Linked DNA regions of Homo sapiens: regions 1, 2, 3 and 4 are each linked to region 5. Evidence: fine-mapped expression QTL. A gene starts in region 5. Each other region holds a variant in brackets. All regions are shown on one strand. Distances are from middle to middle. Region 1 overlaps SLC47A1 (solute carrier family 47 member 1). Region 2 overlaps SLC47A2 (solute carrier family 47 member 2). Region 3 has its middle 33 kb from the start of SNORA59B. Region 4 has its middle 12 kb from the start of ALDH3A2. Region 5 holds the start of SLC47A1 (solute carrier family 47 member 1).

The links. PIP is the estimated chance that this variant, and not a neighbour inherited with it, causes the effect.
Region 1: its variant is fine-mapped to the expression of SLC47A1 in iPS cells (HipSci, PIP 0.95).
Region 2: its variant is fine-mapped to the expression of SLC47A1 in monocytes after LPS (Fairfax 2014, PIP 0.95).
Region 3: its variant is fine-mapped to the expression of SLC47A1 in whole blood (TOPMed, PIP above 0.99).
Region 4: its variant is fine-mapped to the expression of SLC47A1 in whole blood (TOPMed, PIP above 0.99).

Annotation. Positions count from the first base shown.
Region 1 is chr17:19,560,055-19,565,159 of GRCh38, reverse strand. SLC47A1 (solute carrier family 47 member 1) reads right to left here. Exons shown (of 17, transcript NM_018242.3): 11 at 4,864-4,972; 12 at 4,667-4,742. It overlaps LOC105371578 (a long non-coding RNA gene), which reads left to right. Exons shown (of 3, transcript XR_934310.4): 2 at 531-637; 3 at 4,635-4,865. Among named protein-coding and RNA genes, the nearest start is that of SNORA59B, 5.0 kb to the right of the region's middle. The variant A/T (reference allele first, on the strand shown) is at 3,082.
Region 2 is chr17:19,692,697-19,697,801 of GRCh38, reverse strand. The region is part of intron 13 of SLC47A2 (solute carrier family 47 member 2); the gene reads left to right. Among named protein-coding and RNA genes, the nearest start is that of SLC47A2, 21 kb to the left of the region's middle. The variant G/TG (reference allele first, on the strand shown) is at 2,287.
Region 3 is chr17:19,588,024-19,593,128 of GRCh38, reverse strand. It overlaps the pseudogene SLC47A1P1. Among named protein-coding and RNA genes, the nearest start is that of SNORA59B, 33 kb to the right of the region's middle. The variant C/T (reference allele first, on the strand shown) is at 2,452.
Region 4 is chr17:19,634,351-19,639,455 of GRCh38, reverse strand. No RefSeq gene overlaps it. Among named protein-coding and RNA genes, the nearest start is that of ALDH3A2, 12 kb to the left of the region's middle. The variant C/T (reference allele first, on the strand shown) is at 2,579.
Region 5 is chr17:19,531,109-19,536,213 of GRCh38, reverse strand. SLC47A1 (solute carrier family 47 member 1) reads right to left here and starts at 2,360. Exons shown (of 17, transcript NM_018242.3): 1 at 2,140-2,360. The coding sequence starts at 2,274.

The DNA of each region.
Region 1 (5,105 bases), 29 kb before region 5:
ATGAGAAAAATGCTGCCCTGACCTGGGGAAGCAGGAAATTCACAACACCCTTGGAGTGAGTTTTGTCACTCTAAACTAGAACCTAGAAGACTGTCTCCCAATAAATACTTGTTTAATTACTAAATAAGAAATCCAGCACTGGCCCAGGAGTGGTGGCTCATGCCTGTAATCCCTGCACTTTGGGAGGCCAAGGCAGGCAGATCACCTGAGGTGGTGAGTTCGAGACCAGCCTGACCAACATGGAGAACTCCCATCTCTTCTAAAAATACAAAATTAGCAGGTGTGGTGGTGCATGCCTGTAATCCCAGCTACTCGGGAGGCTGAGGCAGGAGAATCACTTGAAACCAGGAGGCGGAGATTGCGATGAGCCGAGATCGTGCCATTGCACTCCAGCCTGGGCAACAAGAGCGAAACTCCATCTCAAAAAAAAGAAAAGAAAAGAAATCCAGCACTGAACAAGATGATCACTTCCTCCTCACCAAAAAGGACAGAAATATAATTATTTTATTCAAATTTTATTTTTTGAATAGGTAACATGCACATGGTCAAAAAATGGAACAATATGAACAAGATAGTAAGCAAAGTCTTACTGCAATGCCCTTCCAGTTTGCCCCAGTACCAGCCCTGCCTCCTCCAGGTAACAATTCCTAGCACGTTCCATGTTTGTCTAGTGTCTATGAAAATATAAGCAAATACAAATGTATATTCTTAATTTTCCTTTCTATATTCTATCATTTCACATGCAGCATTCTCTATATGATGTTCTGCACCTTGCTTTTTCCACCTGAGATATTATATTCACTTTTTTTTTTAGACAGGGTCTCACTGTCACCCAGGCTGGAGTGGAGTGATGCAATCATGGCTCACTGCAGCCTCAACCTCTCAGGCTCAAGTGATCCTCCCACCTCAGCTTCTTGAGTAGCTAGGACTACAGGTGCACACCACCATGCCCAGCTAAATTTTATTTTTTGTAGAGATGGGGTTTCGCCATGTTTCCCAGGCTGGTCTTGAACTCCTGGGCTCAAGTGATCCTTTTGCCTCAGTCTCCCAAAGTGTTGGGATTACAGGCATGAGCCACCGCGCCTGGCCTATATTCACTTTTATATTTCACCCAAATATATTCTTTTCAATGTGCTGCTAAATTCTGTCTAATAACATTTTTTTTTTGTCTGAGACGGAGTCTCGCTCTGTCGCCCAGGCTGGGGTGCAGTGGCTCAATCTCGGCTCACTGCAAGCTCCGCCTCCCGGGTTCACGCCATTCTCCTGCCTCAGCCTCCCGAGTAGCTGGGACTACAGGTGCGTGCCACCACGCCCGGCTAATTTTTTGTATTTTTTAGTAGAGACAGGGTTTCACCATGTTAGCCAGGATGGTCTCGATCTCCTGACCTCGTGATCTACCCACCTCGGCCTCCCAAAGTGCTGGGATTACAGGCGTGAGCCACCGCGCCCAGCCTATGTCTAATAACATTTTATTTTGGATTTTTAAATTCATATTAATACATAAGAGTGATCTGTGATTTTCTTTCTTTTTTATGTGCAAACTTTGTCAGATTTTGGCACCAATGTTATATTTGCTTCATAAACAGAATGCAAAGTTTTCCTTTTCCTGTGCTCTGAAATTTTCTGTTTTATCTATGTTTGCAATTCCCCATGTTTTGAAGATTTTATAAAATTATCCTTTGGAACCTTCTGGGATTGTGCTTTTTGACATTTTAAAATAGCTTTCTCGGCCGGGCGTGGTGGCTTATGGCTGTAATCCCAGCACTTTGGGAGGCCGAGGCGGGCGGATCACAAGGTCAGGAGATCGAGACCATCCTGGCTAACACGGTGAAACCCCATCTCTACCAAAAATACAAAAAATTAGCCGAGCGTGGTGGCGGGCGCCTGTAGTCCCAGCTACTTGGGAGGCTGAGGCAGGAGAATGGCGTGAACCCGGGAGGCAGAGCTTGCAGTGAGCTGAGATCATGCCACTGCACTCCAGCCTGGGCGACAGAGGGAGGCTCCGTCAAAAAAAAAAAAAAAAAAAAAAAAGCTTTCTCTTATTTCTTACAGGAAATCAGTTATTTAGACCTTCTATCTTTTCTAGGGTACATACTGATCAATTATTTCCCTAGAAAATTATCTGTTTATTCCACATTTTTAGATTTCCTTGGAAAAAGTTGTGCAAAGTAGTCTCTTAGGATTTTTAAAAATGATTGTGTTTAGTAGTAACGTCCCCCTTTATTTGTTAGAGGTGCCGTTTCCCGCCCCCTGTGATTAAGTTAGGTAGAGGTTCATCTCTTTCACCGATTCTACCAGGTTGGGTTGATCCTGGCCACCTTACAAGTAATTTGATTGTTGAGTTTCTGATGTTTCCTCATCTCGTCAGTTCTATAGTTTGTGGGCCTCTTGTTTTTCATTCTTTTCCTGGGCTGTATGGTTTCCCAAGTGGACAGATTCAGAGTCCAGCTTCTACTATATTCCTTCTGAAACCATCCATTTATCCTGGTCCTCATAAAGTTCATCCTGATTCCCTTTGTGAGAAAAGCCAACTATTTGCCATCGCCTTCCCCACTCATTCTGAGTGAGGGAGTTATAAACTTTTTTTTTTTTTTTGAGACAGAGTCTCACTCTGTTGCCCAGGCTGGAGTGCAGTGGCACAATCTCAGCTCACTGCACCCTCCGTCTCCCAGGTTCAAGTGATTCTCCTGCCTCAGCCTCCTGAGTAGCTGGGATTGCAGGCGTGCCTCACCACGCCTAGCTAATTTTTTTTGTATTTTTAGTAGAGACAGGGTTTCCCCATGTCGACCAGCTGGTCTTGAACTCCTAAACTCAGGCAATCCATCTGCCTCAGCCTCCCAAAGTGTTGGGATTACAGGAGTGAGCCACCGTGCCTGGCCTAAACATCTTATTTCCCCATAACAAAATAGCTGAAGCTGAAAAATGAAAACCTACGATCTGAAGTCAAAAGTCAAATGTGTGAAGAATAAACCATGAAATTAGTTCTGTCCGCTCCACCAGCTTTCTGAATCCAGGAAGGCAAAGTCCATTTGCATTTTGTAACTGCTGACAAAGGTGTCCAAATAAGAAGTACCCCCACGA[A/T]GTTTCTATATAGTCCGAATGTACACACTAGCATCGCTGATGAAGGAAACAAATTCTGCAGAGCAGAGGGGACTTATCCAAGAATTCTTCAGTAATCAATCTGAGAATATGACTTTTGAGACAGCTCACTGGTGAGATTTTAACTTCAATTCAGTTTGACAAACATATTATGCAACTACTACAAACCGGGCACTTTGGCCGATACTAAGAAACCAAGAGGATTCTTATCACTGGAAACAAAATAATTAACTGAAAATGTAATTAATCGTACTAAAAAGGGGTTTCCACCTTTAAAATACATGACCAGCAGAAGCATAAAATCATTACCAATGCCCATTAAGTTGGCACTGTAGATTATACATCAGTTCCTACATCTAATATGTTCTTCCCAAGTAACATCAGTGGAGCCTCTGATCTTTTTTTTTTTTTTTTTTTTGAGACAGAGTCTTGCCCTGTCGCCCAGGCTGGAGTGCAGTGGCGGGATCTCAGCTCACTGCAAGCTCCACCTCCCGGGTTCACGCCATTCTCCTACCTCAGCCTCCCAAGTAGCTGGGACTACAGGCGCCCGCCACCACGCCCAGCTAATTTTTTCTATTTTTAGTAGAGACGGGGTTTCACCGTGTTAGCCAGGATGGTCTTGATCTCCTGACCTTGTGATCCACCCGCCTCAACCTCCCAAAGTGCTGGGATTACAGGTGTGAGCCACCGCGCCCGGCCGAGCCTCTGATCTTGCAAATGAGTCAGACATCCCTGCTGCAACAACCATAGGTGGCCTCTATGATAGCATCTATCCAATTTAACCATTTCTTTTTTAAATTTTGAGATGGAGTCTCATTCTTGTCACCCAGGCTGGAGTGCAGTGGCACGATCTTGGCTCACTGGCACCTCTGCCTCCTGGGTTCAAGTGATTCTCCCACCTCAGCCTCCTGAGTAGCTGGGATTACAGGCGTGTGCCACCATGACCAGCTAATTTTTGTATTTTTAGTGGAGATGGGGGTTTCACCATGTTGGCCAGGCTGGTCTCGAACTCCTGACCTCAGGTGATCTGCCAGCCTTGACATACCAAAGTGCTAGGATTACCAGCGTGAGCCACTGTGCCCGGCCTCTTTTTAAAAAAAATTCCTAGTTTTAAAAAACTTTTTCTGCTGGCATCTTGCTCTTGGAGGAACCATTTCTTTCTTTCTTTTTTTTTTTTTTTTTAAGACGGAGTCTTGCTCTGTTGCCCAGGCTGGAGTGCAGTGGCACAATCTCGGCTCACTGCAACCTCTGCCTCCTGGGCTCAAGAGATTCTCCAGCTTCAGCCTCCCAAGTAGCTGGGATTACAGGTGTCTGCCACCACACCCAGCTAATTTTTGTATTTTTAGTAGAGATAGGGTTTCACCATGTTGGTCAGGCTGGCCTTGAACTCCTGACCTCAGGTGATCCCAAAGTGCTGGGATTACAGGTGTGAGTGAGATGTTTTCTTTTTACTGATATGATTTCAAACAGCAATGTTTCTGAACAGCCTGATTTTAGAGAACAAATTTTCTCAATGAACCATTTCTTTATCACAGATTTCACATTTCAAGAAAATCCTAGCACTCACCGGTCGGTAGTAAAAATGTACCCCACGTGATCCTTACAGCTTAACAGCAGGACACTGAAGGCTACAGCAAAGAGCACTGAAGGTAAAAACGGCAGAAGAAACAACACAGTGAACAAGAAGATCCACAGGAAGTGGAGGAGCCTGGGTTTTGCATGCAGAGACTGCACCAAGAGCCTCGGGTAAAGGGGTCTCAGCACCTGTAATCAGCAGGGAAACGGTAGAGGACTTCCGTGCCTGCTCCATGTCTCCAGCACCCAGAGCGTTTCCTACCCGGACACTGGCAGCCACACTGAAGCCTGCAGGGACCTAAAATAAAAAGGAAACCTGCAACAATGAGTGAGAAACTGCAGAGCGAGAACACGTGCAGAGAAGCAGCCTCATGCCTCACACCTGGTGGGAAAACTTGGTCCTAAAAGTTTTGAAAAGACTGATTTGCAAC
Region 2 (5,105 bases), 160 kb before region 5:
GTGACATGGCAAGATACCATCTCTACAAAACATTAAAAAAAAAAAAAAAAGCTGGGCATAGTGGTGCATATCTGTAGTCCCAGCTACTAGGGAGGCTGAGGTGGGAGGATAGCTTGTGCCCAGAAGTTCAAGGCTGCAGTGAGCTATGACTGCATCACTGCACTCTGGGCTGGGTGACAGAGCAAGGCCCTGTCTCAATCTACAAAATAAATAAAACAAATTTTAAAAATATGAAAATATAATATTTGGTAGCTGGTTGTATTTGCTTGCTAAGTGCTTTGGTTTGAATGTGTCCTCCGAAGTTCATATGTTTATGTAACAGTGTTGAGAGATAGAACTTTTTTTGGTTGTCTTTTTGTTTTTTTGAGACAAAGTCTCATGATGTCACCCAGGCTGGTCTTGAACTCCTGGCCTCAAGCAACCCTCCTGCCTCAGTCTCCCAAAGTGTGCCCTGTCGAGGTGGGACCTTTAAGAGAAGGATTAATGTCATTATCTTTTTCCTTTGAGACGGAGTCTTGCTCTGTCTCCCAGGCTGGAGTGTAGTAGCACGATCTCAGCTCACTGCAAGCTCCACCTCCCGGGTTCATGCCATTCTCCTGCCTCAGCCTCCCGAGTAGCTGGGACTACAGGCATGCACCACCTACACCTGGCTAATTTTTTTTATTTTTATTTTTAGTAGAGACAGGGTTTCACCGTGTTAGCCAGGATGGTCTCGAACTCCTGACCTCGTCATCCGCCCGCCTCAGCCTCCCAGAGTGCTGGGATTACAGGCGTGAGCCACCACGCCTGGCCTTAATGTCATTATCTTAAGAGCAGGTTAGTTATTTCAAGAGTCGGTTCCTGACAAAAGGATGAGTCTGGCCCCCTTCCCCTCTTTCTTGTGTGCTCTTTTGCCCTTCAGGCATTGGGATGATACAGCAAGAAGGCCCTCAACAGATGTTGTCACTTGATCTGGGACTTCCCAGCCTCCAGAACCGTGAGCCAAATAAATTTCTGTTCATCATAAATTACTCAGTCTAGGGTATTATGTTATAGCAACACAAAATGGACTAAGACACTAGCACTGCCATAACAAAGTACCAAAAATTGGATGGCTTACATAACAGAAATTTACTGTCTTACAGTTCTGGAGACCAGATATCCTAAATCAAGGTGTCAGCAGGGTCATACTTATACTTCCTTTGAAGGCACTAAAGAAGGATCTGTTCTGGGCCTCTCTTCTAGCTCTGGTAGCCTCAGGGGTTTCTTGGATTGTAGATGGTCATCTTTTCCCTGTCTCTTCAAGTCTTCCTTCCATGTCTGTCTCTGTCCAAATTCTCTCTATTTTTTTTTTTTTTTTTTGAGATGGAGTCTTGCTATGTTGCCAGGCTGGAGTGCAGTACTGCAATCTGGCCTTACTGCAACCTCCACCTCCTGGGTTCAAGCAATTCTCCTGCCTCAGCCTCCCAAGTAGCTGGGACTACAGGTGCGCACCACTCTGCCTGGCTAATTTTTTTTTTTTTTTTTGTATTTTAGTAGAAATGGGGTTTCACCATGTTGGCCAGGATGGTCTTGATCTCCTGATCTCATGATCTGCCCACCTCGGCCTCCCAAAGTGCTGGGATTACAGGTGTGAGCCACCGCACCAGGCCCAAATTCCCTCTTTTAATAAGGACACCAGTCATATTGGATTAGGGCCTACCTTAATGACTCCATCTTAACTTGATCATCAGCAAAGGCCTTATTTCCAAATAAGGTAACATTCACAGGTACTGAGAGTTAGAATTTCAACATCTTTTGGCCAGACACAGTGGCTCACACCTGTAATCGCAGCACTTAGGGAGGCTGAGGTGGCAGATCACCTGAGGTCAGGAGTTCAAGACCAGCCTGGCCAAAATGGTGAAACCCCCATCTCTACTAATAATACAAAAATTAGCTGGGCGTGATGGCACACACCTGTAATCCCAGCTACTCAGGAGGCTGAGGCAGGAAAATTGCTTGAACCTGGGAGGTGGAAGTTGTAGTGAGCCAAGGTTGTGCCATTACACACCAGCCTAGATGACAAGAGCGAAACTCCACCTTAAAAAAAAAAAAAGGAATTTCAGTATCTTTTGTGGGAGACACAATTCAACCCATAACATTTATTATTAGTTATAAGAGTTCTTTATATATTCTGGATACAAGTCCTTTATCAAGCTTTATGATTTGCAAACCCAGGCTGTGGCTTATCTTTTTAAATTAAATTTTATTTTTTAAATTCACAGATAAATATATTTATGGTATACATTTTTTCTTTTTTTTTTTTTT[G/TG]CTGTTTTTTTTTTTTGTTCTTTGTTTTTTTTTTAAGACAGGTCTCACTCTGTTGCCCAGGCTGGAGTGCAGTTGGCACCATCATAGCTCACTACAGAACTCCTGGGCTCAGACCATTCTCCCACCTCAGCCTCCCAAAGTGCTGGGATTACAGGCATGAGCCAATGCACCCAGCCACTATGTTTGTATATATGTAAACATTTCACTATGTTTAGACATTGTGAAATGGCTAAATCAAGCTAATTAACATATGCATTACCTTACATAATTCTAATTTTCTTGTGGTGAGAACATTTAAAATATACTATTACCAATTTTCAAGTATACAATAGTTAACATGTTGTACAGTAGGTCTCTTAAACTTTTTCTTCCTGTCTAACTGAATCATTTTCTTAATGGTATCTTTTGAGTTGCAAAAGTTTTCACTTTCAATGTAGTCCAATTTCTTAATTTCTTTTATGGCTCATGCTTTTGCTATTTTATATATAAGAACTCTGCCTAACCCAAGGTCACAAAGATTTTCTCCTCTGTTTTCTTTAAAAAGTTTTAATGTTAAGTCTTTCTTACATTTAGGTTTATGATCCTTTTTTTTTTTTTTTTGAGATGGAGTCTTGCTCTTTTACCCGGGCTGGAGTGCAGTGGCACAATCTGGGCTCACTGCAACCTCTGCCTCCCGGGTTCAAGCGATTCTTCTGCCTCAGCCTCCTGAGTAGCTGGGACTACAGGTGTGTGCCACCTCGTCCGGCTAATTTTTGTATTTTTAGTAGAGATGGGGTTTCACCATGTTGGCCAGGCTGGTTTCGAATTCCTGACCTCGTGATCCACCCGCCTTGGCCTCCCAAAGTGCTGGGATTACAGGTGTGAGCCACAGCGCCTGGCCTCTGATCCATTTTTAGTTCATTTTTGTGTATAATATGAGGTAAGGGTTTAAATTCATTTTTTACATATGGATATCCAATTGTCCTGGCACCATTTGTTAGCACATGAAAGACTCATTTCTCCAGTACTAAGTTTCTTGGAAACACAGTTGAAAATCAACTGACCATAAATGTAGTGGTTTACTTCTGAATTCACAATTCCGTTCCATTGATTTATGTCTATGCTATGCCATTGTGACAGTCTTAATTACTGTAGCTTTACAGGGAGTTTTGTAATCAGGTACTATTAATATACCAACTGTTCTTTTCTGTCCCCAAACTCTTTTGACTCTTTTAGGTCCTTTGCATTTTTGTATGTATTTTAGAATCAGCTTATCAATTCCTACTAAAAAGCATGCTGAGATTTTGAAAAGAATTGTGTTGAATCTATAGATCAATTTGGACAGAACTGTCATCTTAACAATATTGAGGCCTCCAATCCATGGGCACAGAATGTCTCTAGTTATTTAGAACTTCTTTATCTCGGCAATGTTTTATAGTCTTCAATGGACAAATCTTATACTTCTTTTGTTAAATTTATCCCAAAGAATTTTATTCTTTGGATGCTACTGTGAATGAAATTGTTTTCTTAATTTCATTTTAGATTGTTCATGTTTATAAAAAATCAATTGATTTTTTGATTATTGATCCTTTATCCTGTGACCTTGTTCTAATAGTTTGTGTGTCTGAGCTCCTTAAGATTTTCTACATGTAGGATCATGTCATCTGTGAATAGACACTTTTACTTCTGCTTTCCAATTTGGGGAGAACCTCCAATACAATGTTGTTTTGTTTTGTTCTGAGACGGAGTCTCGCTCTGTCGCCCAGGCTAGAGAGCAATGGCGCGATCTTGGCTCACTGCAAGCTCCGCCTCCCAAGTTCAAGCGAGTCTCCTGCCTCAGCCTCCCAAGTAGCTGGGACTACAGGCACGCAACTCCGTGCCTGGCTAATTTTTATTTATTTATTATTATTATTATTATTATTATTTTTAGTAGAGACGGGGTTTCACCATTGGCCAGGGTGGTCTCCAACTCCTGACCTAAGGTGATCCACCCTCCTCAGCCTCCCAAAGTGCTGGGTTTACAGGTGTAAGCCACTGTGCCCAGCTCTCCAGTACAATGTTGAATCCAAGTGTAAAGAGCATACATCTGAGCCTTGATTCCACTATTAAGGGGAAAGTATTCGAAGTATTCAGTCTTTCTGTGTTAAATTTTATCTGTAGCATTTCCCTAAATGCCCTTTTTCAAGTTGAGAAAGATCCCTTCTAATTCCTAGTTTGTTGAGATATCTCATAATTGGGTGCTAGATTTTGCGGAATGCTTTTTCTGCTTCTATTGAGATAATCATGTGGTTTTGTTCTTTATTAATATGGTGTTTTGCATTAATTGTTCTTTATTAATATGCTGTTTTGTATTAATTGATTTTCAGGTGTTATACCTTGCATTTCTGGGATAAACCTCTTTTTTTTTGAGACAGAGTCTCACTCCGTCGCCAGGCTGGAGTGCAGTGGCGTAATCTGGGCTTACTGCAATCTCTGCCTCCCGGGTTCAAGCAATTCCCCTGCCTCAGCCTCCCAAGTAGCTGGGATTACAGGCACGCACCACCACACCTGGCTAATTTTTGTACTTTGAGTAGAGATGGGATTTCACCATGTTGGCCAGGATGGTCTTGATCTCCTGACCTCGTGATCCACCTGCCTCGGCCTCCCAAAGTGCTGGGATCAGAAGCATGAGCCACTGCGCCTGGCCCGGATAAACCTCTCTTGATCATGGTGTATATATTTTCTGTATATTACTAAATTTGGTTTGCTAATATTTTGTTAAAAATTCTGAGTCTGTGTTCATGAGGAACATTTGTAATTTTTATTTTTTGTTATCTTGATCTGGCTTTTGTGTAAGGGTA
Region 3 (5,105 bases), 57 kb before region 5:
CTACTCGGGAGGCTAAGGCAGGAGAATCGCTTGAATCTGGGAGGCGGAGGTTGCAGTAAACCGAGATTGCGCCACTGCACTCCAGCCTGGGCAACAGAGCGAGACTCCATTTCAAAACAATAACAACAACAACAACAACCAAAATTCCTATACCCAACAACAAAAAAAGAAGTAACCTGATTTAAGAAAAGGGAGGGCAACAGACTTGAAGAGACATTTCTCCAAAGATGATATATAAATGGTCAACAAATATATGAAAAGATGCTCAACATCTTTGTATTGGAAAATAACCATGGAGTGTCTTCCATAGGTCATATTTTATCACAACAAATAGAACCATGCCCCGCTCTGGCATACAGAGCCAGGGACTCTGTCTTCCTGTCTATTTTTCCATTCCACTCCCCTACCCAATCCTCCATTTTACCCTTTGTTAATCCATTCCTAAATTTTCTTCTCCTTTTCCCCGCTATCCCCAAGCTTCCCTGTGTACATCTGTTGGGGAAACCTCTAAGAGACGCTTTCTGAGGTCCACCTCCCAGGAGAACCTGGGTGGCCCAGGCCTCCTGTTTCTGGACATGGGTCAACCAACTGGTGCTCACACCTCCCTGTGGGACTCCAGCTTCCCGGGCCAGTGCCTCGTCCAGCTTTCTGACAGAAGGTGTGTTTCACTGATGTGTTCTTATGTTCCATCTTCAGCCAGCCTTTAAAGATTTTCTGGCCACACTGAGGAGCCTGGCTCTGGCTCTAGGCACAGAAGTGTCCCCCAGTGAGGGACCAGTGAATTGATAGTGTTTTCTTTCTGGGACCCTCATCTCCTCAAGCTTCATAAGGATGCAATTGGGCTCAGTTTCTTACAATTCCAAGATGCTAGGAGAATCCCTAAGGTGTCTGCCCTACTCTGTCTTTGCTGGGGTGGCCCCTTTCAGCCTTCACAGACCACAGCAACTCCCTTCTCTAGGCGAATTCCACCTCAACACACAATCAGCTTACACATCGCTTCTTCCCAGGCACCATCCCTATCTCTCCACCCACTAACCCACTGACCTTCCTTCCAACAGCCTGAGCCAGCTGCTTCTCCTGTGAGGTCCTGTGGCACCCAGTTCTCATCTGGCACACAGACCACCTGAACACCCAACTCTATTGCCTGTCCACCTGTCCATATTCCCTCTACCAGACGATTTCACTCTCGCTATCCCCAGTCCCAGGGACAGGAGACAGCAGACAGCAGACATTCAGTATGTGTTGAATTCAGGGGTCGTGACTTACACCACTCTGAAGTCCAGGGCATACAGCAAGAGGGCATTCATGCCCACGTTGATGACATTAGCTGCAATCCTGGTAATAACTTGAGGCATGCTGATGCCCTAAAACCCCCAAACAAATAGGAAAACATTCACATTTTCGAAAGCTAATTAGCTAGCCTATCAAGTGAACACTCACAGTTAAACAGGGAACAGTTTAAATGATGGCAAAGTTACTCAGGACTGGAATGGTCAGGAGCTGAGATGACCAGATTAGTCTCCTCCGTTGGTGCATTATCTGCCTATCCCAACCAGAAGCTTGCAACTGCTTCTGAATAACCTGGTAGGTCATGGTTTCCAGAAGAGCAGCAGAGAGAAAAAACCTCCTGAAGGGCAAATGGGCCCTGGCATGAAGTGAAGGAGAGGCAGCTTGGAAGATATCTGTGCCAAGTTGCTAAAGTTCTTGCATACAAGACACCCAGCAATGCCTGCTTCATAGCAGGTGTGCAGAACATGTTCACCCTATTGTTGTAGGCGCCAGTCACTCATTTCTTTTGTTTATCCTGTCTATTCAAACATTTTCTTTCAGTAAAACCTCTCTTTCATTCCTGCATTGAAACAGAGAGCTGACTGTTACCAAAGCTGGGTAAGGCAAGAGGGCTGCGGCCTCAGATGGGCGAGAAGGGACCCGGGGAGGCAGAGCTCTGCTTCTCTCCACTGTCCACCCAAATCTTGCCCTCAGACTCCTTCGCTGCTCCCTAGTGGCTGTAGGGACCCCAGGCCCTCCTCTCTAAAGCAGAAGCACAGGAGCCAGGCCCCAGGCCAGATGCAAAGCTGGCACCAGCCCCAAGAGAGGGGAGGGGTCGGGGCAGGGGTCGAAGCAGGTGGTGGTGATTGAAAGGGGAATGGGATGGATTGATACAGCCGTCTCTCTTGGGCTAGACAAAATTCACCTACAAGGCCTCAATCTCTCAGGCAAAGAACTCTAAGGTAGAATTACAGGGGGAAAAATGTGAATTACTGTTATAGAACATTCCCTACGAATATTTACTAGACATTTCCAGGATTATGGAGTAAAAATTGTAAAAAGAATCTATACCTGACTTTGTAAATATCTTGTCTGCAGCTGGAACAAGAATGCTGCCTGTAAGTTTAAACAGAAAAACAAACACTTCTCATTAATATAAATTCCAACGGTTTAGTTTAGTTC[C/T]GGTTTTTAATCTTAAATAAGACACTTCCCCTTGATGTATGATCTCAGAGAACCTCACTCACATGAGACAATGCTAGGGCACTATTTGGAATTTTCCAGAGTGGATAAAAGATGTACTCCCTGAAGAATTGACACAGGCCGATTCCAACTGGCTGAGGCAGAAGCCACCGTCTTGACATTTCGAACGGCTCCGAGGGTGCCCGAATGCAGCACTCCCCAAATCCTAGATGATCCAGAAACATTCTGGTTGATTTGCAATCAAAAATAACCATAGAACAAGGAATCAGGAAGGAAATGTCTTCCCCTCATCAATCTTTGTCTTTTTTTTTTTTTTTTTGAGACAGAGTCTTGCTCAGTCACCCAGGCTGTAGTGCAGTGGCACGATCTGGGCTCACTGCACGCTTCGCCTTCCGGGTTCACGCCATTCTCCTGCCTCAGCCTCCCGAGTAGCTGGGACTACAGGTGCCCGCCACCACGCCCGGCTAATTTTTTGTATTATTAGTAGAGACGGGGTTTCACCATGTTAGCCAGGATGGTCTCGATCTCCTGACCTCGCGATCCACCTGCCTCAGCATCCCAAAGTGCTGGGATTACAGGCATGAGCCACCGTGCCCGGCCCAATCTTTGTCTTTAATTTAAGCTACTGTACACCAGAGTGGTACATGTCCTGAGAGTCAGCAAGGGAGGGACGACAGGGCCAAGAAATACATGTCGGGCTTTTGGCATGAACTGCACCAAGATGGAGAAACAAGAGCCGGGGGAAGGGGCATGTGCAGGGCGACACATGTGAGCTGCTTCATGTAGTGAGACACAACAGCCTTGAAACTTACAGGAAGGGCAGGAATGAAAATCAGCACATAAATTTGGGCTATCCTGAAACAAACAAAATAGTCTTCAGTTAATATTAAAACAGTTGCTGGTCATATTGTCTTCAAATTGAACCCACAGAGTATTTTCTAAAAATTAAAATTAAAAATTATTTACTTTTTAGAGACAGGGTCTTGCTCTGATGCCCAGACTGGAGTAGAATGGCACCATCATAGCTCGCTGTAACCTCAAACTCCTGGGCTCAAGCAATCCTCCTGCCTCAGCCTCCCAAAGTGCTGGGATTACTATAGACGTGAGCCACCACACCCGGCCTAAAAATGAGAGAAACTTAATAACAACTTTTAAGTGTTTTTCTTCAACCTACACAAACATGACACTAAGTCTACTAAATGTCTGCTATCTAAGGGGCAGTCTGACCACTTTCCATTTTTCAGCTCATTCTTAGCATGAAAACTAAAACTTGGGCAAAATTCAGAAACCATTGGAAAGTGTCAGGGTCACCTAACAGTGAGCGAGACAGTCTTCTAGAAAGGACCACGCACCCCAAGGACAATACCAGAGAATACACTGGAATTATAGGTTAAAGAAAAAACCCAACACTAAAGTCATACGTGAAGGCGATTACACTGCTATTCTACTTCAGGGGAAAAATATTTTCTGCATTTGCCAGACAGCAAAATGGAGGGACTCGGTGAACGGGAGACAGGCCAGGCACACAACACCCTGGTCCTGTATCTTGTCACCCTGAGTCAGGTGGTCCCTGCAGCCCCCAGACCCTGTGGCCCACAGTCACAGCTTTCATTTTGTTGTTGTTGTTGTTGTTGTTGTTGTAGTTGTTGTTTGAGACGGAGTTTTGCTCTTGTCACCCAGGCTGGAGTGCAATGGCACGATCTTGGCTCACTGCAACCTCCGCCTCCCAAGTTCAAGTGACTCTCCTGCCTCAGCCTCCCAAGTAGCTGGGATTACAGGCACCTACCACCACGCCTGGCTAACTTTTTTGTATTTTTAGTAGAGACGGGGTTTCACCATGTTGGCCAGGCTGGTCTCGAACTCCTGATCTCAGATGATCCACCTGCCTCGGCCTCCCAAAGTGCTGGGATTACAGACGTGAGCCACTGTGCCTGGCCAGCTTTCATTTTTGAAAGGGATCAAGACCATGTAATTGGCCGAAAATGTCCACACAGGTACAATGACCAGATAGCCACTTACTCTTAACCTAGGATTGGGAAACAGGGGACCTCACCTGGAGACTTCGGGTCTTGTTTTAAGAGCAGGAGGATGCGCTCGGTGTTGACCAAGTCGGCCCAGCAGGGAAAGCAGCACAGCATAAGGATGAGGACCCCTCTCTGAAGTATGATCCCCACGCGCTTGAGGTTCTTGACTCCAAAGGACTTGAGAAAACAAATGCACTGCTAACAGCATATGCCAGGCAGGCCGAGGCTGGGGGCCTGCGCCACAAGCAACCCCTCCCAGGGGCGCCTGCCCGGCGCCCAGGCAGTCCGGTTTCCCATCATCTGCTCCCGCCCTCCCCACCAACAGCTGACAGCATTGGGGGAGCTTCTGAGCCAGGGACAACCACAGAGGCCCCTGTGGCATTTTACACATGTCCTGGGACAATGTGTCCCTGCTCCCAGGAGCTGGGACTGTTAACATGGAGGGTAGAGGCAGCAGAAACTGAAGCTTAAAAGAGAGTTTTCCACATGGGGGAGACAGATGCTGCAGGAGAATGTGTGCCATTGTAGAAGGTGAAGTTGTGGGGGACTCTGAGGGCCAGGGATACCCGGGGAGGGTGCAGTGGAAGAAAAGCACACACTGTAGGCTGAGAA
Region 4 (5,105 bases), 100 kb before region 5:
TAGCATATATCAGAGTTTCATTTCTTTTTAAGATTGATTAATATTCCATTGTAAGTATACCACATTTTGTTTATCCATTTACAAAATGGACATTTGGGTTGATTCTACCTTTTGGCTATTGTGAGTAATGCTGCTGTGAACACTGGTGTACAAATATCTGTTTGAGTCCCTGCAGCATATCATAATTCTATATTTGTTAAAGATCTCACATACTATTTTCTATAGTGGTTGCACCATTTTATGTTCCCATCAGCAATGTACAATAGTTCCAATTTCTCCACATTCTCACCAAAACTTGCTTTCTGTTTTCTTTCTGTAATGACCCCTATAATAGGTATAAAGTAATATCTCATTGTGGTTTGGATTTGCATTTCCCTAATGACTAGTGATGCAGAGAGAATATTTTCATGCCCTGGTTAGCTATGTATCTTCTCTGGAGAAATGTCTGTTCAAGTCCTATGCCTAGTTTTTTTGTTTTTTGTTTTTGAGACAGAGTCTCGCTCTGTCACCCAGGCTGGAGTGCAGTGGCGTGATCTTGGCTCACTGCAACCTCCGCCTCCCAGGTTTAAGTGATTCTCCTGCCTCAGCCTCCTGAGTAGCTGAGATTACAGGTGGCTGCCACCATGCCCAGCTAATTTTTGTGTTTTTAGTAGAGATGGGGTTTCACCATGTTGGCCAGGCTGGTCTTGAACTCCTGACCTCAAGTGATCCACCTGCCTCGGCCTCCCAAAGTACTGGGATTACAGGTGTGAGCCACCATCCCCAGCCATATGCCTAGTTTTGAATTAGGCTGTTTGTATATTTTGTTCTTGTGAGTTGTTAAGAATTTATGTCCGAACATAAATCCCTTATCAGATATATACTATGCAAATACCTTTTCCCATTCAGAAGGTTACCTGTTTATATTATTAATAGTGTCCTTTTATGCACAAAAGTTTCTAATTTTTATGAAGTCCTGTTTATCTATTTTGTTGTTGTTGCTTGTGCATATCCAAGTAATCGCTGCCAAATCCAGATTTCCCCTTATGTTTTCTTCTGGCAGGCTTAGTGTTTGGTCTTATGTTTAGGTCTTTGATCACTTTTTTTTTTTTTTTTTGAGATAGGGTCTCACTCAGTCACCCTGGAGTACAGTGGTGCAATCAGAACTCACTGCAGCCTTCACCTCCCAGGCTCAGGTGATCCTCCCACCTCAGCCTCCTGAGTAGCTGGGACTACAGGCACACATCACCACACCTTTTGTGTGTGTGTGTGTGTGTGTGTGTGTGTGTGTGTGTGTGTGTGTGTGTATTTTTTGTAGAGACAGGGTTTTGCCATATTGCTCAGGCTGGTCTTGAACTCCTGGGCTCAAGCAATCAGCCCATCTTGACCTTCCGAAGTGCTGGGATTATAGGTGTGAGTCACTGTACCCAGACTGACCACTTTTGAGCTAATATTTATATATCGTAAATAGGGGATCAACTTCATTCTTTTCTATGTGGATATCCAGTTTTCCCAGCACAATTTGATGAAAAGACTTTCCTTTTCCCATTGAATGGTATTGGCACCCTTGTTTAAGTCATTTGACCATATATGCAAGGGTTCATTTCTGCATTCCCAATTCTGTCCATAGGCATGTCTTTATGCCAATACCACACTGTGATTATGTAGCTTTGTAGTTTGTTTTGGAATCAAGCAATCTGAGTCCTTTCACTTTGTTCTTCTTTGTCAGACATTTTTGGCTATTTGGGTCCATTGAGATTCCATATGTGTTTTAGGGTGGATTTTTCTATTTCTGCAATATGTCTTAGGGATTTTGATAGAGATTGCATTGAATCTTTAAATCACTTTTGGTAATATTGTTATCTTAACAGTATTAAGTCTTCATATGCATGAGTATGGATTGTCTTTCCGTTTATTTATGTCTTCTTTAATTTCTTTCAATTATGTTTTATAGTTTTTCGTGTACAAGTCTATTGCCTCCATGGTAAATTTATTCCTATGCATTTGATTCTTTTTGATGCTATTAAAAATGTAATTGTTTTCTTAATTTCTTTTTGGGATCATTCATTGCTAGTGTATAGAAATGCAACTCATTTTGTGTGTTGTGATTTGCATCCTGTGACTTCTGAATTTGTTAATTGAGTCTAATGGTTTTGTGGAATGTTAAGGGTTTTATACATATAAGATCATGTTATTTTTGAACACAGGTAATTTTACTCCTTCCTTTCCAATGTAAATGCCTTTTATTCTTTTTGTTGCCTAATTGCACCATCTTAAACTTTCAATAGTATTGTGAATAGAAGTGGGGAAAACAGACATTTTTGTCTTGTTCCTGATCTTAGGGGACAATCTTTTAGTCTTTCACCATTGAGTATGATCTTAGCTGGAGGTTTGTCATATATGGCTTTTATCATTTTGAGGAGCTTTCCTTCTATTCTCACTTTATTAAGTGTTTTTTTTTTTTTCAAAGAAAAGGTGTCATTATTGGTATAGTGAGATTAGTATCTGTATATGTTACCTTTTCTATTTTTTTGTTTTTTGTTTTTTGTTTTTTTGAGACGGAGTCTCACTTTGTTGCCCAGGCTGGAGTACAGTGGCG[C/T]GATCTCAGCTCACTGCAAGCTCCGCCTCCCGAGTTCACGCCATTCTCCTGCCTCAGCCTCCCAAGTAGCTGGGACTACAGGCGCCTGCCACCACGCCTGGCTAATTTTTTGTATTTTTAGTAGAGACGGGGTTTCACCTTGTTAGCCAGGATGGTCTCTATCTCCTGACCTCGTGATCTGCCCACCTCGGCCTCCCAAAGTGCTGGGATTACAGGTGTGAGCCACCACGCCCTGCCCACCTTTTCTCTTTGTTGTCCTTGTTACTTTTTTTCTTCCATTGTGGTTTTAACTGAGCATTTTATGAGATGCTATTTTCTTTCTTCTCTTAGCATATTGATTATATTACTTTTTAAAAACTTTTTCATTAGTTGTCCTGGAGTTTGCAATATGCATTTACAACTAACCTAATTCCACTTTTGAATAACACTATTCTTCTTCATGGGTAATGCAAGTGCCTTAGAATATTCTCAGTTCCTCCCTCTTGACCCTTATAACACTGTTGTCATTCATTTTAGCTATGCACAAGCTGTAATAACCAAATACATTGTTGCTATTATTTTCATATATTTTTTATCAATTAAAAATAAGAAGGATAAAATATTTTACCTTCATTTATTCCTTTTCTAGTACATAATTCCTTTCTTTATGTGTATCTGAGTTTCTGAAGTATTTCAGAAAATAGGCTTGGCATTATTAGTAGTATGTGATCTCTAGTAATCACAATGAGACACCACTTCCCACCCACTAGTATGATATAACTAAAATCAAAAAGAAAATCACAAGTGTTAGCAAGGATGTGGAGAAACTGGAAACCTCATACACTGCTGGTGGCAATGAAGAATGGTGCAGCCACCATGGGAAACATTTTGGCAGTTCCTCAAAAAAAATAGAATTATCCGCCTGTAATCCCAGCACTTTGGGAGGCCGAGGCAGGCGGATCATGAGGTCAGGAGATTGAGACCATCCTGGCTAACATGGTGAAACCCTGTCTCTACTAAAGATACAAAAAATTAGCCAGGCATCGTGGCGGGTGCCTGTAGTCCCAGCTACTCAGGAGGCTGAGGCAGAAGAATGGCGTGAACCCAGGAGGCAGAGCTTGCAGTGAGCCAAGATCGCGCCACTGCACTCCAGCCTGGGCAACAGAGCAAGACTCCATCTCAAAAAAAAAAAAAAGAAAGAAAGAAAAAAAATAGAATTATCATATAACCCAGTAATTCCACTCCTAGGTATAGACTCAAAAGAAGCGAAAACAGGTGTTCAAACAAAAACTTGTACACGAGTATTTACTACAGCATTATTCACAATTGCCAAAACATAGAAACAATCTAAAAGTCCATCAACTGATTAATAAACACCAGGTGGCATATCACACAATAAACTATTCAGCCAGAAAAAGGAATCAAGTTTTGAGAGACATGCTACAACATAGAGGAATCGCGGGCCAGGCATGGTGGCTCATGCCTGTAATCCCAGCACTTTGGGAGGCCGAGGTGGGTGGATCACGAGGCCAGGAGTTCAAGACCAGCCTAACCAACATGGTGAAACCCCGTCTCTACTAAAAATACAAAAATGAGCCGGGCATGGTGGCACGCACCTGTAGTCCCAGCTACTCAGGAGGCTGAGGCAGGAGAATTGCTTGAACCTGGGAAGTGGAGGTTGCAGTGAGCTGAGATCGTGCTACTGCACTCCAGCCTGGGTGACAGAATGAGACTCTGTTTCAAAAAAAAAAATAGAGGAATTGCAAAACCATCATGCATGCCAAGTTCAAAAAGCCAGACTCAAAAGGTCACATGTTCTATGATTCCTTCATTATGAAACATCCAAAATAGGTAAATCCACAGGCACAGACAGCAGATTAGTGGTTGCCAGGAACTCAGGGAGAGGGGTATGGGGAGTGAGAGGTTAATAATCTGAGTTTCCTTTTTGGTATGATAAAAATGTTTTGGAAGGGTTAATTTTATGTTATATGAATTTTACTTCAATAAAATCTAGGGCCAGTCACAGTGGCTCACGCCTGTAATCCCAGCACTTTGGGAGACCAAGGCAGGAGGATCTCTTGAGCTCGGAAGTTCAAGACCACCATAGGAAACATAGCGAGATTTCATCTCTACTAAAACTAAAAAAAAAAATTAGCCAGAAGTGGTGGCACACGCCTGTAGTCCCAGCTACATGGGAGGTTGAGGTGGGAGGATCGCTTCAGCCCAGGAGATCAAAGCTACAGTAGCTGTGATCATGCCACTGCTTGAGCCAGGGAGACAGAGCCAGATCCTGTCTCTAAATACATACATACATACATACATACGTACATACATAATCTTCTGGAAAAAAAACTTTTTTTTGGAGTGCAGTGGTGTGATCAGAGCTCACTGTAGCCTCGAACTCCTGGGCTCAAGTGATCTTCCCACCTCAGATCCTGAGTAGCTGGGACTACAGACGTGTGGTTTTGTTGTAGAGATGGGGTTTTGCCATGTTACCAAGGTTGGTCTTGAACTCCTAGGCTCAAGCCATCCACCTGCCTCAGCCTCC
Region 5 (5,105 bases):
TATGCTTATAATCCCAGCTCTTGGGAGGCCGAGGCAGGAGGATTGCTTTAGCCCAGGAATTCAAGCAATGGGCAACACAGGGAGACCCTATCTCTAACCCAAAATACAAAAATTAGCCAGGCATGGTGGTGTGTGCCTGTAATCTCCGCTACTCCAGAAGTTGAGGCTGCAGTGAGCTGTGATCACACCACTGCACTCCAGCCTGGCCGACAGATCAAGACCCTGTCTCAAAAAATAATAATAATAATAAAACAATAATAGCCTTAGAAAGCCCCTTCTCACAGCAGCTCTGTGAGGGAGTGTTGAACCAAGACATGATTATTATCTCCATTTTACAAATGAATATGCAGAGACCAGAAGAGGTTAGGAGGCTGTTTCAATCTGCACAGCTGCTTCCTGACTTACTTTCGGAGGTCAAAGCAGGGCACGCAGCCCCAGGTCTTGAGATTCCAAATCATGAGGTGTTTTTTTGCCCAGGCTGGAGTGCAATGGCGCGATCTGGGCTCACTGCAACCTCCGCCTCCCGGGTTCAAGCGGTTCTCCTGCCTCAGCCTCCCAAGTAGCTGGAATTACAGGCGCCTGCCACCATGCCCAGCTAATTTTTATTTTTTATTTTTTGTATTTTTAGTATAGACGGGGTTTCACCAGGTTGGCCAGGATGGTCTCAATCTCTTGACCTCGTGATCCGCCTGCCTTGGCCTCCCAAAGTGCTGGGATTACAGACGTGAGCCACCACGCCCAGCCATGAGGTGTTTTTGTTTTGTTTTGTTTTGTTTTTTGAGACCAAGTCTTACTCTGTTGTTCAGGCTGGAGTGCAGTGGCACCATCCTGGCTCACTGTAACCTCCACTTCCCAGGTTCAAGCGATTCTCGTGCCTCAGCCTCTGGAGTAGCTGGCACTACAGGCGCCCGCCACCACGTCTGGCTAATTTTTGTATTTTTAGTAGAGACGGAGTTTCACCATATTGGCCAGGCTGGTCTCGAACTCCTGACCTCAAGTGATCCATCTGCCTCAGCCTCCCAAAGTGCTGGGATTACAGGCGTGAACCACCGCGCCCAGCCCCAAATCATGAGTTCTTTCTGGTCTGTGAGAAAGCATGGCTGATGGATCTTATTCCATGGCTTTGACCTCGGCATTACCCTTGCTGTCCTGCACACCACAGCGGGTGCCACAATATCCCACAAACTACCGAGCCCCCACTCCAGAGGCACAGCGGCCCCCCTCAGCCCGCGCAGGTGCAGAATGTGGGCCTCAAAGTCAAAAGCTTATTCACGCCTTAAGTGCATACCAGTTGCTTCTTGTGCCGCGTCCTACCCTCTCGGTTTGAAAACCACCCAAGCTGGCAGGAGAACGTGGATAGGATTGTGTTTTTGTGGTTTTTAAAACCACATTATTTTTAGGAGACAAGGCAGAAACAGCCCTAACCTAATGATTAAAAAGAAAAGAATCCCACAGATAAGAACACCTCGACCCCACAAAGAACCACATTAAAACCCCTTTTTTCTTTCACATACATAATTACTGGCGGGGAGGGGGTGGTACAGGATGCCTCTGGTTTCCTCGGTAGAGGTTGACTGAATTCTGAAGAAATCATTTCGCAGCTCTGAGTCCACGACAGACCACGCACCCCCTCCTCCGTGCCTCGGGATTATTTAGATCGCAGAGCTCCCGAACTTTTGACCGCTACTTTTCAAAGAAACAAGTTCCCTTGTGTTTTGAAGTTCAGGCAACTTGCGTTTTATTGGCCGGAATCAGCTCCCAGAGAAGGCACCCCCGGATGCAAATGCAGCCTGGACCTGGTAGAGCCCCGTTAGGGGCAAAGGTCCCAGCTCTCCGGTGTCTCCTGGCGCAGGAGGCTGGAGCCGCCGGCCTCTCCGAGCCAACATGCGCCCGGGCGCGTACCAGCCGTTCCCGCAGTGCCCCGCGGGGCCCCCAGTCGGGTGGTGCGGAGCGGAAAGCGGCCGGGACGCAGGCAGAGGAGCTGGGGTGCCCGCCCGGCTCCTGGCACGATGCTCCCCGGAGCCCGCCGGCGGACAGCTCGCTCGGTCCCCAAAGCCCGCCAAAGTCACCCGCGGAGGCAGAAATCACCAGGTCCCCAGCCCGCCGGTACCGGCCTGCCACTGAGGCCACCTTACTCACCGCGGGGCCAGCCAGGACCAAGAGCGCCCGCAGCTCTTCTCGGAAGGCGGACAGCCGCAAGCAGCGCGACCCACGGACCTCAAGGGTGGCCTCCGGGCCTCCGCGCACTGGCGCGGGCTCCTCAGGAGCTTCCATGTGACTCGCGCGCTGCGGCCGGGTAGCGCGGAGGCCGGCAGTGGGTACCGCGGAGGCCGGCAGTGAGTACCGCGCAGGCCGGCAGTGGGTACCGCGCAGTGCAGCCTGCTCTGCAGTCCCCGCCCCGGCCGCCCGCCCAGAGCCCGCCCCGCGCCTGGCGCCCGGGGGCCCGACTGAGCGCGCAGCCAGGCAGCCTGCGACCTTGGGCGCGCCCCTTGCACCTCTCTCTGCACCACTGCGGACGCCTGCGGGTCTTGCAAAGACCAAGGAACTCCTGCACTTGGAAGGCAAAGTTTGAAAAAGCTCTGTAAACTAACGGAACGCGCTCCGGGGGCTGGGTCCTCCACGTCTCGGACGCCAGGACTCACCCCGGCTCTCCACCTCCGCTGGGGGTTTCAGGTTCTGAATGACCTGGCGTGGAAGGACCCAGAGGCCTCGAGCCGTGACTCGGTTAGCACCCCGCGGGGTGTGTGGGGTTGGGCGCATTTGCTGTGCAGATTGAGTTGGGTACACCCTTTGATGCTGGTTAGGGTGTTGCATACTCCTCTCCTCTCATCAGTTGTTCCATTAGAGAACTTAGAATCTACCAGGATAGAGCAACATGCTCCCATTTGCCAAGTAGCACAGTTTGTGCCAGCTGGTCGTGTTGGAAGTTTATCCATCAAGCCTGCTGTGGGAGTACGAGAGGCTGCGGCCCAGAAGGGCAGGAGCAGCGCGCTTTCCTCCCAGAGCCTCAGCTTCCTCATCTGCAAACGTGAAAGAACACTCGTCGCCAGCTGTGAAGACTGGGGTTGCCTGGGCGGAGGACCGGAGTCAGTGCCACCTGCCCTCAGCCTGGCACCAGCCGTTACCTAATAAGTGTCAGTTACCAGGACAAGATTGATTTCTCTAATAGTCAAAATTCCTTCCGTTGTAATGATCCAATGTAAGTAGAGAAAATGGAAAACAAATTTTTTGGCTCACATAATCAGGAAGTTTGGATTCAGGGATTTGAAAACAAGGTCATTAGGCCAGGCGCGGTGGCTCACGCCTGTAATCCCAGCACTTTGGGAGGCCTAGGCGGGCGGATCACAAGGTCAAGAGATCGAGACCATCCTGGCCAACATGGTGAAACACCGTCTGTACCGAAAATTAGCTGTGCATGGTGGCGCGCGCCATAATCCCAGCTACTAGGGAGGCTGAGGCAGGAGAATTGCTTGAACCCGGGAGGCAGAGGTTGCAGTGAGCCGAGATCTCGCCACTGCACTCCAGCCTGGTGGCAGAGGGAGACTCCACTCAAAAAAAAAAAAAAAACAAAACCAGATCATTCTTGTTGTCCCTCTTCCCATCTCTGTCCCTCTCCTCCCTTCTCCTCGCCCCTTGGGATTCTTTCCGTAGTTTCTCTTCCTCCTCTGCCGGCAGCCTTTCTCTTCCTGTGCAAGTGACAGTGGTGGCCTCTGATACCCTCGTTCCTATCTTTCCCGTCTGTTAAACCAGAAAGTAAGGCCCTCCCCTCCTCTCTTCTGGTTCCAAACTAACAAACAAAAAACTGGGAGAAAATCTGGTTGGCCCTGCTTAGGTTTCTTGCCCACCTCTGGAACAATCGCCCTGGGTGGGAAAATAGGGTCTGATGTTTGGCTGGCCCTGGACCATGCACCCAGCTTTGAACCTACAGGGTTAGGGTTAGGTGCCCTGTGACTGGTCTCGTCCCACAAGGACTGTACATATGGAGTAGCGCAGTTTCCCAAAAGAACTGAGAGTGTCAACAGACAAATACCCGAGGATATTCACTAGATCTCTGATCACTGCTGTTTTTTGATAATTTTCTGGAAGTCCTGACTGATGTAATAAGACAGGAAATGGAAATGTAATGTATAATGTTAGGAAAGAAAAGGCAAAGGGATTACTCACAGTAGAAATTGACAGACCGGGCCAGGCACAGTGGCTCATGCCTATAATCCCAACACTTTGGAAGGCCGAGGTGGGAGGATCACTGGAACCCAGGAGTTTTGAGACCAGCCTGGGCAACACAGTGAGACCCCATCTCTTAAAAAAAATCCACACAACCCAAAGAAATAAAATATGAACAAAAGCTAATAGAATTGATAAAGGGGTTTAATAAAGTTGCTACATAGAAGTTCTTCAACAAGTCATATCAGTCCTTTATATTGGTAATAACATATATGAAAATACTAAAAGAAATCTTTCACAATAGCAACAAAAAACAAAAGGTCCTCGTGATACAGAGCATAACTCCTCACTCCTTAAAGGTGGATTGTACACAGTGACTTCCTTCCAAAAAGTAGCACAGGAAAATTAATTTTCAATTAATATATTAGGTTTTAGTCCACTACTGTGTATTCCATTATTTTAAAATTTAATAGAATGATTCTAAAAGCAATTGATAGTGTAAACAGGAAAAGATATAACAAAAACTCTGAAAAAGAAAAGTAAGGAGGAAAGAAGTAGCTCTATTGGCTGGTAAATAGCTTTTAAAACAACGTGTGGTTGGCTGAGCACATTGTACAGGTGAGTAGCCCACACCTGTAGCCCCAGCACTTTGGGAGGCTGAGGTGACAGGATCGACTGAGCCCCGCAGTTTGAGGCTGCAGTGAGCTATGATTGCACTACAGCACTCCAGCCTGGGCAGCAGAGTGAGACCCTATCTCAATAAAAAACAAAAAACAAAACAATTAAAAGAACAAAGAACCCTGTTACTTGGAAAGTGTTAGGATTTTGATTGACATTGCATTATATCTGCAGATTTATTCAGAAAGAATGCACCTCGTTAAAATTCTGTCTTCTATTTCAATCATATCCCTAGTCTAATCAGTACTCATCTAGGGAATGGG